Regions from separate parts of the Homo sapiens genome. Here region 1 is linked to region 2. A link means that fine-mapping ties the variant in region 2 to the expression of a gene that starts in the linked region. Tissue or cell type: whole blood. Region 2 holds a variant in brackets; the other region holds the start of a gene. All regions are shown on one strand. Distances are from middle to middle.

What was found. PIP is the estimated chance that this variant, and not a neighbour inherited with it, causes the effect.
Region 1: it holds the start of ALDH8A1, and the variant in region 2 is fine-mapped to the expression of ALDH8A1 in whole blood (INTERVAL, PIP above 0.99).

What each region holds. Positions count from the first base shown.
Region 1 is chr6:134,946,334-134,953,993 of GRCh38, forward strand. ALDH8A1 (aldehyde dehydrogenase 8 family member A1) reads right to left here and starts at 3,768. Exons shown (of 7, transcript NM_022568.4): 1 at 3,583-3,768. The coding sequence starts at 3,720.
Region 2 is chr6:135,058,780-135,066,439 of GRCh38, forward strand. LOC124901405 (a long non-coding RNA gene) reads left to right here. Exons shown (of 2, transcript XR_007059775.1): 2 at 1,436-2,567. Among named protein-coding and RNA genes, the nearest start is that of HBS1L, 7.8 kb to the left of the region's middle. The variant G/A (reference allele first, on the strand shown) is at 3,846.

The sequences.
Region 1 (7,660 bases), 110 kb before region 2:
GCCAGCCAGCAAGAGGAGCATGAATTCCTACAGTCAATGTAAAAATCTGGTCTTTTTGCTATTCAGAAAATTCAAGTCCACTCATATTTTCTAAGTTGCCTTATAGCACAACTTATGTCCATGTAATATAGAATACATATTAATGTACTACATACAATAATATTAGCATAAGTTAATACATAGAAAGCATTTACTATATGCCAAGCACTAAGGGCTTTAAGCATATTAGTCAGTTTAATCCTCAGAATAACACTATAAAGTAGATATCATTATTATCCTCATTTTATAGATGAGGAGACTGAGGCATGCAAAAGTTCAGCTCTAAGTCAAAGCCATAGATACCAAGTGGTGCAGCTTGTATTTGAACCAGGCAGTCTGACTCTAGTATGTGCTTATAACTGCAATGCTATAATGCAAATGTGCTATGCACACAGGTGCGCATGTGTGCGCGCGCGCACAGGTGCGCATGTGTGCGTGCACGCACAGGTGCACATGCCCATGGATCTAAGCATCAGAGATGAGAGTGTTAGTACTGTCCTCTGTAAAATAAGGATCATAATAGAGACTTCTAAGTTGTTACAACTCGCTTCTTTGGATAATCTATATTAAAGGGCTTACTGATTGCACACTACCAGACTTTAAAATATACTACAAAGCTATAGTAACCAAAGTAGCATGGCACTGGTGTAAAAACAGACACATAGACCAGTGAAACAGAATAGAGAATCCAGAAATAAATCCATGCATTTACAGCCAACTCGTTTTTTACAAAGCTGCCAAAAATATGCATTGGTGAAAACATAGTCTCTCCAATAAATGGTGCTGGGAAAACTGGATAACCATATGCAGAAGAATGAAACTAGACCCCTATCTCTCACCAAAACAAATCAAAACAGATTAAAGACTTAGATAGATGTAAGACCCAAAACTATGAAACTACTATAAGAAAACATAGGGTAAATACTTCATGACACTGATTTGGGCAAAGATTTTTTTGGGCAAGACCTCAAAAGCACAGGCAACAAAAGAAAATAAATAAACAAAATAAAATAATATCAAGCTAAAAAGCTTCTGCACAACAGAAGAAACAGCAGAGTTAAGAGGCAACCTACAGAATGGGAGAAAATATTTGCAAACTATCCATCTGACAAGGGATTAATAACCAGAATATATAAGGAGCTTGAGCTTGTATATATACATATACAACTCAATAGCCACCGCCCAAAAAATCCAATTTAAAAACGGGCAAATGATCTAAAGAGATATTCCACAAAAAGAAGATGTACAAATGGCCAACAGGTATATAAAAAATGCTTAACATCACTAATTATTAGGGAAATGCAAGTCAAAACCACAACGAGTTATTATCTCATCCCAGTTAAAATGGTCATTATCAAAAAATAAGAAATAAAAAAGGCTGGTGAAGCTGCAAAAAAAAAGGGAAGACAAATACAGTGTTGGTGGGAAAGTAAATTAGTGCAGCCATTATGGAAAACGCATGTAGGTTTCTCAAAAAAAAAAAAATAAAAATAGAACAACAGTATGATCCAGCAATCCCACTACTGGAAATTTATCCAAAGAAAAGGAAATCAGTATACTGAAGAGATACCTGTACCCCCATATTTGTTGAAGCACTATTTACAATAGTCAAGATATGGACTCAACCTAATGTCCATCAACAGCTGAATGGATAAAGAAAATATGGTATATATACACAATGGAATATTATTCAGCCATAAAAAGGAACAAAATCCTGTCATTTGCACCAACACGATTTGAGCTGGAGGATATTACGTTAAGTGAAGTAAGCAAGGCACAAAAATACAAATATTACATGTTCTCACTCATATGTGGAAGCTTAAAAAAGTTGATCTCATGGAGGTAGAGAGTACAATTATGGTTACCAGAGGCTGGGAAGGGTAGAGGAGAGGATAGAGGTTGGCTAATTAATACAAAAATATGGTTAAAAGGAATAAGTTCTAGTAGAGTGACAATAGTTAACAATAATTTATTGTATATTTCACAATAGTTAGAAGAAAAGATTTGGAATGTTCCCAACACCAAGAAATGATAAATGTTTAATGTGATGGAGATCCTAATTACCCTGATTTGATCATGACACATTGTATGCATGTATCAAAATGTCACATATGCCCATAAAGATGTACAATTATTATGTATCAATTTTTTAATTTTTTGTTAAAAAAGGGCTTAATGACTGCAAAGCACAAAGCAAAAGTTGAATAAACGGGAGCCACTGTTAGCAGCACCAGCAACATTTTCCTGAGTGATGTTTTGGAAATTGGACATGCAGTTTGTATGGTAACCATATTTTTCAAGCCGGAAAAAACTATGACTTATGGGATCAGATAGGATATTTGGAAGTTGGATTGCTGAGAAACTGAACATATCTATTACTCTACTAGCTAGCGCATCCATAGCTCATTCTATTTTCTAAAAAGTTATGAGCCATTAGCTGCAGGAAATATTTCAGCTGAATTTGGCATGTTTGTCATTTTTAACTTCACTTTGGCAAACAAGGAAGAGTGGAAAACACAAAGCTGGATTTCCCAGAGCTGTGTTAAGTCATTTGAAGCAAACAAAATTGCAGTTTATAATTTAACCAATGCATTAACCAACATTTGCAAACATTAATCCCTAAGTCTGAAGGTTTACTTTAAATGCAAGACAGATTTGAAGTATTAACAAAAAAGAAAAAAAATAGCAATGTTCTTAAAAAAAAACTTTGCATGGAATATATATTTTTATAGGAAGACTATATTTTAAATAATCTAGTTATTTGTGCCTTAAAAAGAATAAATTATAATTCATAAGGCATTAGATGACTATATATACATCAGCTACATTTACCACTTCAGATATATTTACATTCTCAGTGCAATAATTGATAGCTAATCAAATATATCTCAAATATTTTACAAAATTCTCCAAGTAAAATTAATTCTACATCACCAAAAAAATGTAATGCATATGCCATTAAACACTTTGGATAAGAAAAAAGACGCTGTTAAATCTAACTCCAAAAATATATGGGAATTTGATTTTGAGTTTCATCATTCAAATGATTGATTTTATTTTACTAGGTATTTTGAAGACATGACAAATTATGAGAAGACAATCTAAAACAAAGCCCACAGTTTTTTGCTTGTTTGTTTATTTTAGTAAAGCTATACTTTTTTTTTAATTCCATGGATATAGTGGTAAATTTAAGCAGTGCGTGGTGGAGAAAAGGGAATATTTAACAAAGTGATAGCTCTTACAAATAATACTTTGTACTAGACACTGATTAGGAAATGTTTGAGAATTGCAAAAAAAAACTGCACACAGGGCTGTGTTAGGTTGGCTAGAAAAATGACTTACTTTCTGCATATAGGAAGAGATTTGTTCTAGGTATCATACAGTCCAGTTACAAGGTACATCTTCTGAGAACTAGAATCTTCCTTCTATCATGTTTAACAATCCTACATCTTCCCCCAACTCCCTCTGCTTTTAGAAAACTGTTACCCATAATTGGCCAACATATTAAACACATTTCAGTCTTCTTTAAGTGCATATACTCACCTCGTCTTTTCCACTATTTGGCACTCTGCAATACACTTCCCCTGTTGATGGGTCGTAAGAATCTATATATGAGCTACAAGGTAAAAATTTTCCATCTATGAAGTTTTCCAGCATCAAAAGTGCGTTTGTTCCAGCCATAGCAAGGAAAAATTCTGCCTTTCCTCTTTACGACTGAGCACTCAGGTTGTCCCCACCACTGTCTGGACTCCTGAGTGAGCCTCCCCCTTCCCAGCCCCCATCTTCCCCTTTACCAATCAGTGAATGTGGGAGGGCACCTGACGCTCTCAGAGAGCATTCCAGTCTCCAAACTCAGAACTAAGAGAGTGGCTGAATGTTTCACAGACTTCTAGTACATTACCTGACATGGATAATTGTGTGTAAAAGTAACAGCTACTTACTTATGTGTTCATAGCCCTTTAAATCATCAGAAGGCATCTGTGCATGTGATTTTATTGGGTTCACACCGTAAACTGTTCATTGCTCAAACACTGATTGGATGCCAGGCCCCAAAGCAAGTCCTTTACATGAATTTACTCGTTTATTCCACACAACAATCCTATATGAAGTAACCATTACTTCCTCTCTTTTATAGAAGAAACTGAGCCTTGGAGAGGTTAGACCATTTTTCCAAGGTCACATAGTTAGCAGGGGATGAACTGTAGCCCTTTAATCTCCAAATCATATACTTTTTCCTCAATGCATCACTGCTTACCCTGCAGAGGTAACTGAAGACAGATGCCCTCTTTCCGTGGCTCATCTGTGTTTCTTTACCTTGGCTGCCCTCTCTTGGAAGAGCTGTCTCTCCATCCCAAAACCGGGGCCACAGTGGCTGCTCACATCTTCCTAGATGTGCCATGGAGATAAAGACAAGCCAAAAACATGTGTGACACATATAGCAAGGGCTTCAGATCCCTGATGTAGCTGAGAATTTCTACAAATTGGTAAGAGAAATGAGCACCCCAACAGAAAAGATAAGCAAAGATACAAAAAAGCAATCCATAGGAAAAGGAACACAATTGGCTAATGAATATATTAACAATGTTCAGCCTTGTTGTTAAGCAAGGAATGTGAAATACAGAGGTGGCCTGATTTGCCAATCATACTGGAGAGCATTTTTAAAGATTGAGAACATCTACTCTGTGAGGATGTGGAGAATCATCCCTAGTCCATAGGCGGGAGGGTTCACAGAACACTGCTTGGGGCAATTTGTCAGGGTCTGGTCAATTTCTCTTCTAGGAATCTCTCCTACAGAATTACGTGCTCATGAACAAGTACATAAGTCACAGGACATCCTTTTTTATCATAATTTAAAAATCAAAACAACCTAAAGTCCATCAATTGGAGAATATTAGAGTATAATTGTTATATTCTTAACAGGGAATACTACTTAGACATTAGAAGGATGCATTGTTAAGTGAAAAAATAAAACTAGTGAATAATATATACAGCATAGTTTCTTTGGCTATTTACATGGTTGACAGGAAGCCGTTTTAAACTGCTTGGATATTTTATGGCAAGCCTATATTACTTTTATAATTATGATTTATAGTTATAATTCAGTTGAAGGTTAGGTACCAATATTCTAAAATTCATTGATCACATGAGGGCACTTGCTGGCCGTGCACCTCCTTAGGCCCTCTCTGCTTCCATCTTTATTGGTCTCTAGATATTCTCCAAAATTCTTGCTGAGACTTCTGACAAGCATGGTGTGGCTGATTCTGGGAGGCCCAGAGCAGCTGGAGTCTGGAGCTGGCGCCGTTGCCTGTCGCTGGAGAGTCGCTGACAGGGACTGGAGACAGAAGGTAGTCTCAGGCTTTTTCTGGTGCTGCCCACGGTCAGGTCAGCTGGAAACAGAATGAGAGAAATACGCAGGTCCCAGCCCTGGCACCACAGAGTGAAGTACCAAGAAGTGAGCTTGGTGCTGAGAGACAGTGAGTACCACCCGGTGTGTGCATAAAGACTTCTGTAGCCCATCTTCCTGGGTCTCCAACAACTCTGCCTAATGTTGATGGACTCATCAGAATGTTTGTCTTTTTGTACAGAGTGCAAAAGATTCTAATGGGAGGACTATGGAAGGGAGATCTTTTTGAAGAAAGGACTTTACCCAGGATAGCATGAGAGAGGAATTTTCTGCCACGTGACAGTAGAAGAGGACAGAAGCCGGACACGGTGCTTCTAAAGAGTGCCTGGTGCTGATCAGAACTCCCCACACAAGATCAGTCCCAGTGGCAGAGCAGGCGTGTCTGTCAGTTACAGTGGCCTCCTTGTGCCATTTTCTTGTGCCATTGGCTGCTCAAGCTGGGCCTTCGCTGGTTTTTCTTTTTCTTTTTTTTTTTTTGAGACAGAGTTTCACTCTTGTTGCCCGGGCTGGAGTGCAATGGCATGATCTCAGCTCACAGCAACCTCTGCTTCCTGGGTTCAAGCAATTCTCCTGCCTCAGCCTCCCAAGTAGCTGGGATTACAGGTATGTGCCACCACGCCTGGCTAATTTTGTATTTTTAGTAGAGACGGGGTTTCACCATGTTGGTCAGGCTGTTCTCAAACTCCTGACCTCAAGTGATCCGCCCTCCTCAGCCTCCCAAAGTGCTGGGATTACAGGCGTGAGCCACTGTGCCTGGCCTCGCTGGTTTTTCATAATGTACTTGGCCTTCCCCCACTTCCCCCTGTCAGCCCTTTTCTGTCCACAGTGCAACCATTTGATCCCCACCTGCAGGTCAACCACAGAGATGACTCTGGAATCAGAGCTCAGCTGAGCTGGGAGACTTTCATCCTGGAGGACAGAGCATGGGCCTCATTCAGAGTCTGGTCATGTCAGTTGACCCCAGTCCTGATACCTGAGCTCTGACATGCCTTCAAGGCCTTTTCTCTAAGTTGGCACCAACGTTTCTCCTGTCGGTTTCCCTTGAAGAGACATGAAATCCTATATCTGGGCCTAGTGGCTGAGAACCTACTTCTAGGTAGTTCTACCTGCTTCACTGGACATGTGGGTATCACCTGCTCCTGAATTATTCTGGCTGGCTCCATCTGCTCGCCAGTGTGTCCTGCTGAATGCAGATCTGTTCTTACCACATCCCTGTAACAGCATTCTGACCCATGGGTGAAACGTACTCCCATTTGCGGTCACAGAATCCACCCCCCACCACATCCCAAGGGGTGGATTCACTGCCAGGTCCTGCACAGTGAGGACAGGGGACTCAAGACCTTGAGTGCAACTGAGAAAAAATTATAAATGGGAGGTATTAAGTATACTAATATTCTAAGAGAACTAGTTGCTCTAGAATATTACAAAAGAGAATAGGGTGTTTTTATCTAATACAACAAAAGTTATTCTCTTTAAAAGGGGAAAGACAATCCTGATTTAGGGGGCCCCAGGTGTACTGGAGTTTTGTTTTTACCCACAGTGGTAAACAAAAATCACAGCATGGTAGCATGAGGCAGCTGGGAGGGGTACGCTAGACTCAGGAGAAACACAGGATGGGGAACAGAGAGTGCCATGAGTGAAATGGAGCCATCAGAGTTCATTCATTTGGAGAAGGATAGGGGAGGATGGATACAGAAGCATGGAGAGGAGGTTGAAAGACAGACAAGATGGTAATTCCAAATAAATACCTGTTCTGGGGCGTCATTTTCCTTCTGTCTCCACAAGAACCTTGCTCACTGGATTATCATCTAACTTTTCATTCTTCTCCTCTCTCCTGGCGCTTTCAGCCTTTAAATGAGCTCCTCTCTCCAATATCATATCATATAAACAAAATAATATAATAAACAAAAATTTAAAAGAACTTTCTCTGGCTCTCTGGCCTCTGTCCTCTCCTCTATAATCCTTCTCTCCTACTGAAAACATTACACAGAATGAATGAAAATGAAAAGTGCTGTTGTTATAGGAATAACTACCCTCACTTATATGTGGCATGATGTTGTTCTCTTGCCCATTTGCCAGCCCCTCAAACCCCAATCTTCTTAGCCTCACTCCTAGGAGGAACTTTTGTGCACAATCGCATGTCAGAATTATCCTATGCAAGGTTATCAATATGAAACACTAGAGGTTTCTTTGGTTGCATGTGCTCCACTCTGAGGA
Region 2 (7,660 bases):
ACTTTTGAAGTAGATATTAATGGAGTCAGGAAAGAGAGAATTAAAGGGAGCTTTCAGAGGTGCTGGAGATGTTCTATATATTGATCTGGGTTAGGATTATAAGGTTTTATACATGTATACAATTTTATTTTACTGTACATTTAAAATTTATGCACCTTTCAGTAATAAGTTATACCTCAATTTAAAAACCAAATTAAAAAATGCAAAAATTTATTAAATGGAATTTTCATTCCTGTCTTTAATATATACATATATGTCAGATGTTTCCTTTATGCCTCATAGTGTTGTTTTATTTATTTATTTTATTTTATTTGTATTGACAAGTTCTCACTATGTTCCCCAGGCTGGTCTCAAACTCCTGAGCTCAAGCCATCCTCCCACCTCCACCTCCCAAAGTGCTGGGATTACAAGCATGAGCCACCATGCCCAGCATATAGTGTCCTGTTTTAAAGATCTAAGCACTGTGATACATCTGAGTTAGAATTTACTTAACAATATATCAGTATTTCTCAGAGTATAGTCTGTTCTTCATCCTGTATTTGAAACTAAACAATTACTCATCCATTTACACTTAAAATTTTCTGTTGTTCCTGAAATAACACTGTCCTTGTTAGCTACTTAAATACTCATATGAGGTTTGGTAAATAAATTATAGTGACGCTTCTACTCCATAACTATTAAAAAGAAATGAAGGAATTGATCTTAGTCATTAAGAAAGGAAGAATAAGGCTGGGCGCGGTGGCTCACGCCTGTAATCCCAGCACTTGGGAAGGCTAAGGCGGGCAGTTCAAGACCAGCCTGGCCAACATGGTGAAACCATGTCTCTACTAAAAATACAAAAACTAGCCAGGCGTGGTGCCGGGAGCCTGTAATCCCAGCTACTTGGGAGGCTGAGGTGGGAGAATCAGTTGAACCTAGGAGGCAGAGGTTGCAGCGAGCCAAGATCGTGCTACTGTACTCCAGCCTAGGTGACAGAGCAAGACACCATCTCCAAAAAAGAATGGGAGGGATGGAGGATAGTTATAATTGTGACATTAGACATGGTATATAAGAAAAGTTCTAGAATTTTCTAGTTAAGTGTCTAGGAAAGTAGGGCCTATGCTACAAACTAGAAAATGTCATGGGTGTGTGGGAAGATCCTTTGGGGTCCTTTGCAGTTTTGCAATTGTTTTGAGGACTTGTGAATTATACTTGTTATTATATGTTAATAATGTAAATCTGCTCATCTTGATTATTGTCACCAAATATCTGTAAAATTTATAAACAGATGTATTTATTTTCCTGTTGATATGCCGAATTACTTCTATAACCCTCTGTCTCAACGAATGATATTCTTACCTTCCTATTTGCAATTCCCCCTGACTACTTTCCTCACATATTGTTCTCTCTTTCTCTCTCTCTCTCCCCCACTCCCTGCCCCTTTGTTTCTTGACAGAAATCCAGCTAAGTAAAAATTGGCAAGATCCTGTGACAAGATCCTGTGACAAGATCCTGTGATCAAGACAAAGTTTTGCCCCCAAAGGACTTGAGGCTATCTGGGAATTCCATGTTTGACAGAAGCGCTGACAGCATAACCAAGCAAACAAGAAGGTATTCAGGGACGCTGAAACGGATCTTCAAAGAAGACTCAGTGGGTGATTTTTAATTTCTGTGTAGTATTATAGAGCTTAATGCAGAACATACCAAAACCTTGGAGAGGTAATGATAGGGTCATGCATTTCATAAGGCAGAGTAATGCCCTGCAACAACAAAATAAAGTCAAAGAGTTCTACACTGAGCCATGAACCACTAAATGGGGAATACCAACAAAATAACACCACCTGGGTGAAATCTGCTTCCTGCGTAGATAGGTTCTTTCAACCACCAACCCTAGGCTTTCCAGCTGTCAAGCACTTAATCATGAAATATAATAATAAAGATGTTTCAGGAGTTCCTTATGATACTTATTCAAAAGTTCATATTGTTCTAAACTCTCTAATAATAATCAGTTCTCCAGGTTAAACATCTTTCAATGGAAGCACATTATTTACAAACTCAGTCCAAACCCTTAGAAGGACATAGGAGTTCCACTATGATGTCAATGCTGCCTGGTTTGCCACCTCACCTGCCACCTCTCTACCACCAGACGTGGGGCACTCTACATCAGCTCCTACTTTTATGGTTCCAAGTCCAGCCATGGTCTTCCTGACTCGGGACATTCACACATACTAATTCTTCTGCTTAGAATGCCCATCTGTCCCCATTCCCTCTTTATTGCTCAGCAAAGCCCAGTTTCCATCACACATTCTGCGACACCTTCCTTGACTCTGCAGAATAAGTGTCCCTCCTGTGTGCCTTAAAGCACAGTATTTGTTTCTGCTACAACACACATTAATAATATTCTAATTGTCTATGTTTTCTTCTACCCCTCTCCACTTCCCCAGTTAGATGTAAATTCCTTAAAGGCAGGGACACTCTAGTTTATTTTATATCTCTTGCATCCAGTGTAGTGGCTGGTACAAAACTAGAATAAATAAAATAAATGTTATTGAATTATTGTTGAATAAAGTTATAACATGAAAAATAAATATATTTGTAAGAAGTTCATTACTTTGGAGACCAATATCAGTAATATTCTGGAGAAGGACACCATCTGCAAGGAATGAGAGAGTGCAAGAGAGTGCGTAATATGGCAGTGAGAGCTATAAGTAGAAATTTCTAGATTTAAAGGTATCTTTTGTATATACCCCCCAAAAATGAAAACTTATGTCCACATACAGACTTGTACATGAATGTTCATAACAGCATATTCATAGGAGTCAAAAGTAGAAACAACTGAAATGTCCATTAACAGATGAATGGAAAAATAAAATGTGGGCTATTCACAGAGTACACTATTATACAACAATAAAAAGAAGTGAAGTACTGATAATAAGCTTCAACATGGATGAACCGGAAAACATTACATGAAGTGAAAGAAGCCCCTCTTCTGAGTTGGGTGGGAATACTTCAGTGAAAAATGAGATACTTATTTTCTGGATTCATCCTGGTCTGAATCCAGGCTTGCCAAATATACCTTGTTATTGTATGCACAACCAAAAGAAATACACATTTCATGATTCTATTTACTTGAAATTTCCAGCACAGGCAAGTCTATAGAGTCAGAAAGTAGGTTAGTAGTTGCTTAGGGATGGGGAGGTTGGGGGAAATGAGGAGTGACTGCTAATGGACAGGGGCGTTTCCTTATGGGGTGATGGAAATGGTCTAAGATTGGGGGTGTTGACGGTTGTGCAACTCGGTAAATATACAAAAAAAAACACTTAAAAAACTGTACACTTTAAATGGGTAATTTTTTTTAAGACAGGGTTTCATTCTGTCACCCACTCTGTCATGCCACCATGCCCAGCTAATTTTTTTTTTATTTTTGTAGTAATGGGGTTTTGCCATGTTGCCCAGGCTGGTCTCAAACTCCTGAGCTCAAGCAATCCACCTGCCTCAGCCTCCCAAAGTGCTGGGATTACCGGCATGAGCCTCCGTGCCCAGCCTAAATGGGTAAATTCTGATATAGGAGTTAAGAAGAAATTACTGGGCCAGGTGCAGTGGCTAATGCCTGTAAAGTCCCAGCACTTTGGGAGGCTGAGGAGAGTAGATCACCTTAGGTCAGGAGTTTGAGAAACTCCGTCTCTACTAAAAATACAAAAATTAGTTGGGAATGGTGGCATGTGTCTGTAATCCCAGCTACTCGGGAGACTGAGGCAGGAGAATTGCTTGAACCTGGGAGGCGGGGATTGCCGTGAACCAAGATCACGCCACTGCACTCCAGCCTGGGCGACAGAGCCAGACTCCGTCTCAAAAAAAAAAAAAAA[G/A]AAAGAAAAGAAATTACTTAGACAGATAGTGAGGGTATAGAAGACCTCGGTAAGGTTTTCCTTTAAATGAAAAGCAGCCCCAAGTCATTTTGCTTACTAACAAAGAGCAGCCTGTAAAATCGAGCTGCAGACATACAAGCTGGCAGTTGTTGTCAATTGTGTTCAAAATGGCGACTCCATCTTCCCTTCTTGGCCAGCCAGGTGTACAGGAAGGAGCAAACAAAGTGGCACCGGACAAGGGGAAAGTTCATTTGCATAATAAGATTAGGGTGGGGCGGCCAGCCTTCTCCTGAGCTATGTAAACCTAGTACCTGATTCAACCAATCTGTGAGCCCTATATAAATCCGACACCACTTCCTCCAGCCTGACTATAAAATCTGGCGCATCCACCAGCTGGTTCTTTCCTCTCAGAAGTCCCTTCTCTCTCACTAGAGAGAGCTATTTTCCTTTATCTTTCTTTTGCCTGTTAAACCTCTACTCCTTAACTCCTCAGGTGTGTCCGTGTCCTTAATTTTCGTGGCACGAGATGATGAACCCCAGGTATTTACCCCAGACAAGGTAGCTGCTTCAATTCTATGGTGTTAATTATATATCAATATAGCTCTAATTTTTTTAAAGAGTCTCTTTCAGTGAAACAATCTGTTTTAGATGTTCAATCTTTTTTTTTTTTTTTTTTTTTTGAGACGGAGTCTCACTCTGTCACCCAGGCTGGAATGCAGTGGCCGATCTCGGCTCACTGCAACCTCTGCCTTCCGGGTTCAAGCGATCCTCCTGCCTCAGTCTCCAGAGTAGCTGGGACTACAGGCGCGTGCCACCACCCCCATCTAATTTTTGTACTTTTAGTAGAGATGGGGTTTCACCCTGTTGGCTAGGGTGGTCTCAAACTCTTGACCTCAGGTGATCCACCCACCTCTGCCTCCCAAAGTGCTGGGATTACAGGTGTGAGCCACTGCACCTGGGCGGTATTCAGTCAATTTGAAAGCAGAGAGCCACCTGAGAAACATGGGTGCAATGAGAAGCTTCTGTAACTTCTGTAACTTGGAGGCAGAGAAGGAGAAAGGTCTGGCACAATGGCAATTTCTGTAATGATTATAAGCCACTTGGGCAAAAAGCTCTGTTCTGCAATTTACCAAATGTGTAATCTTTTTTTTTTGAGACAAGGTCTTGCTCTGATGCCCAGGCTGGAGTACAGTGGCACAGTCTCGGCTCACTGCGGCCTCAATCTCCCAGGCTCAAGTGCTCCTCTTTCCTCAACCTCTCAGCGTAGCTGGTATAAACCAAAAATTTCTAAGGCCCCTCAGTCATCTGAATGGACCCTTTCTCTTGGCCAACGGCATTACAGAGTTAACATGAAAATCTAATTCTGGCCGTGATGGAAGAGGGTGTTGGATATGCCTCATTATACCCCTCCAGCATTAACTTCAACACAGACCTTAAGTGTGACAAGAAACATTTATAGTCTGCCCTCTTTGAAGCCTGCTCCTGGGAGGCTTCATCTGCATGATAAAATCTTGGTCTCCACAATCCCTTATTGTGAGCCAGACATTCCTTACTACTGATAATAACTTTTTCAACCAATTGCTAATTAGAAAATTTTTTAATCTACCTATGACCTGAAGACCCCCAACTTGACATTGTCCCGCCCTTCCAGATAGAAGCAATGTAAATCTTACATGTATTAATTGATGTGTTATGTCTCCCTAAAATGTATAAAAGCAAGCTGTACCCGAACACCTTGGGCATGTGTCTTCAGTACCTCCTGAGGCTGTGTTATGAGTGCATTCTTAACCTTGGCAAAATAAGCTTTCTAAATTGAGACCTGTCTCAGATACTTTTGGGTTCACGCTGGGGCTGCAGGCTCGCTCCATCACACCCTGCTAATTTTCTTTATGTTTAGTAGAGACGAGGTCTTGCTATCTTGCCCAGGCTGGCCTCATACTCCTGGGCTCAAGGGATCCTCCTGCCTAGCCTCTTGAAGTGCTGGGATTACAGGCATGAGCCACTGCATAAACTTGGGCCAAATGCTTCTCATCTCAGGGCCTTAGTTGTCACACTGTAAGATAGAGGATAAAAATTGAACTACTCTAAACAGTTGTGAAGATTTGAATGGCTTAATTCATTAAAGCATCTAGAGCAGCTCTAGGCACATAGAAAGTACTCCAACAATGCTTGTATTCTTCTTTGGCCCCACTGACTTCCACTGCACAGGACAGATTTCATTTGGGTCTTGAAAATTATGAGATGAGGTTGGTCTGGTTTGGTTGCCTGGGTGCTGACATCACTACTGTTGCCCTTGAACTTTATCACTGCATCCGGTGATGAGGCCCTCAGGAGGCCTCCCTGTCTTTATGTCACACCTATTGGGCCAACAAAACATTTAGCATTTTCTTGCCCCTTGGTAGGGCTCATGATTGTCAAGTGTTTTCTCAGCTCTATGCTGCGGCATGCAACACTCAGTGAGACTGCCCTCGGTCACTCCTTTCAGTCCCTAGCCAGGTAATATCACTACCCTCCTGCCCAACTCTCAACACTGCACCATGCCAAGTAGGAGGCTTTTTTGAGGGACTTTCAGCCTTTCCAGGTTATGTTCTCAAGAAATTAGCACAGCTTGGCCAGGCACGGTGGCTCACGCCTGTAATCCCAGCACTTTAGGAGGCCGAGGTGGGTGGATCACCTGAGGTCAGGAGTGCGAGACCAGCTGGCCAACATGATGAAACCCTGTCTCTACTAAAAATACAAAAATTAGCTGGGTGTGGTGATGGGAGCCTGTAATCCCAGCTACTAGGGAGGCTGAGGCAGGAGAATCGCTTGAACCCATGAGGCAGAGGTTGCAGTGAGCGAAGATTGTGCCATTGCACCTGGGCAACAGAGCAAGACTGTCTCAAAAAAAAAAAAAGAAAAAGAAAAGAAAAGAAAAAAAAGAAATTAGCATAGCTCCCAATATTGCTGGATATATCCAGTACATCTGGAAATCTTTAATACAACAGCTTCCATACAGGTTGAAGAGAACTGTCCATTTTGAGTACAGTACTTTAAGAAAGAAAGTTGGGTGGGAATATTTCAAAGATGAAATACTTATTTTCTAGATTCATCCTAGTCTGAATCCAGACTTGCCAATATACCATCTTAGTGTATGCACAATTTCTTCTAGGATTTATAGACTGTCTACCTCTGGGTATCATCTTAGCGCTCCAAGTGTATGTATAATGTAGGGACACATACAGCTTTTCAGCCATGGGAAAGAGGTGTGTCTGCAGTATAAAATGCTGCAAGGCACCAACGGAATGTTAATGACAAATCAAAGGACAGAGCATCTTTAAATCCTAGGGGAAAATTCAAAGCAAAGAAAATTTGCAAATCAAATTTAAACCAGAAAAAAAGCATACACATAAAAGGTAGGGTTTTAAAAGGTAAAAGCGGCTCTCATTAAAAGTCATTTAAAACACTGAACTGTTTGAGGAATTTCCCTTCCTTGCCCTGTCATGCTCTGTTTTCTTTGAAAAGGCAGAAAATGGGCTATAGTGTCAATGTGTTGTTTAGAAACCTATATCTAGAAAAACTCTAAGAAAGGAGTAAAATAATTTAAATCAAAACCCTTTCAGCCACTAGATATTGTTCTTACTAGATTTTCTTCAGAAAGACAAGTTGGAAAATGGGAACGGCCAAAGGGAAGCACTTGTTTTCCTTCTCACCTCAATATGTGTATAGGGTTGAGCCATTGCTCATCTTGAAAAACTTGGATATGGGACAGTCACACAACAGTGTTGCCTGTATATTGGGCCATAGACTTTGCAAACTATCCCGTAAAATTTATT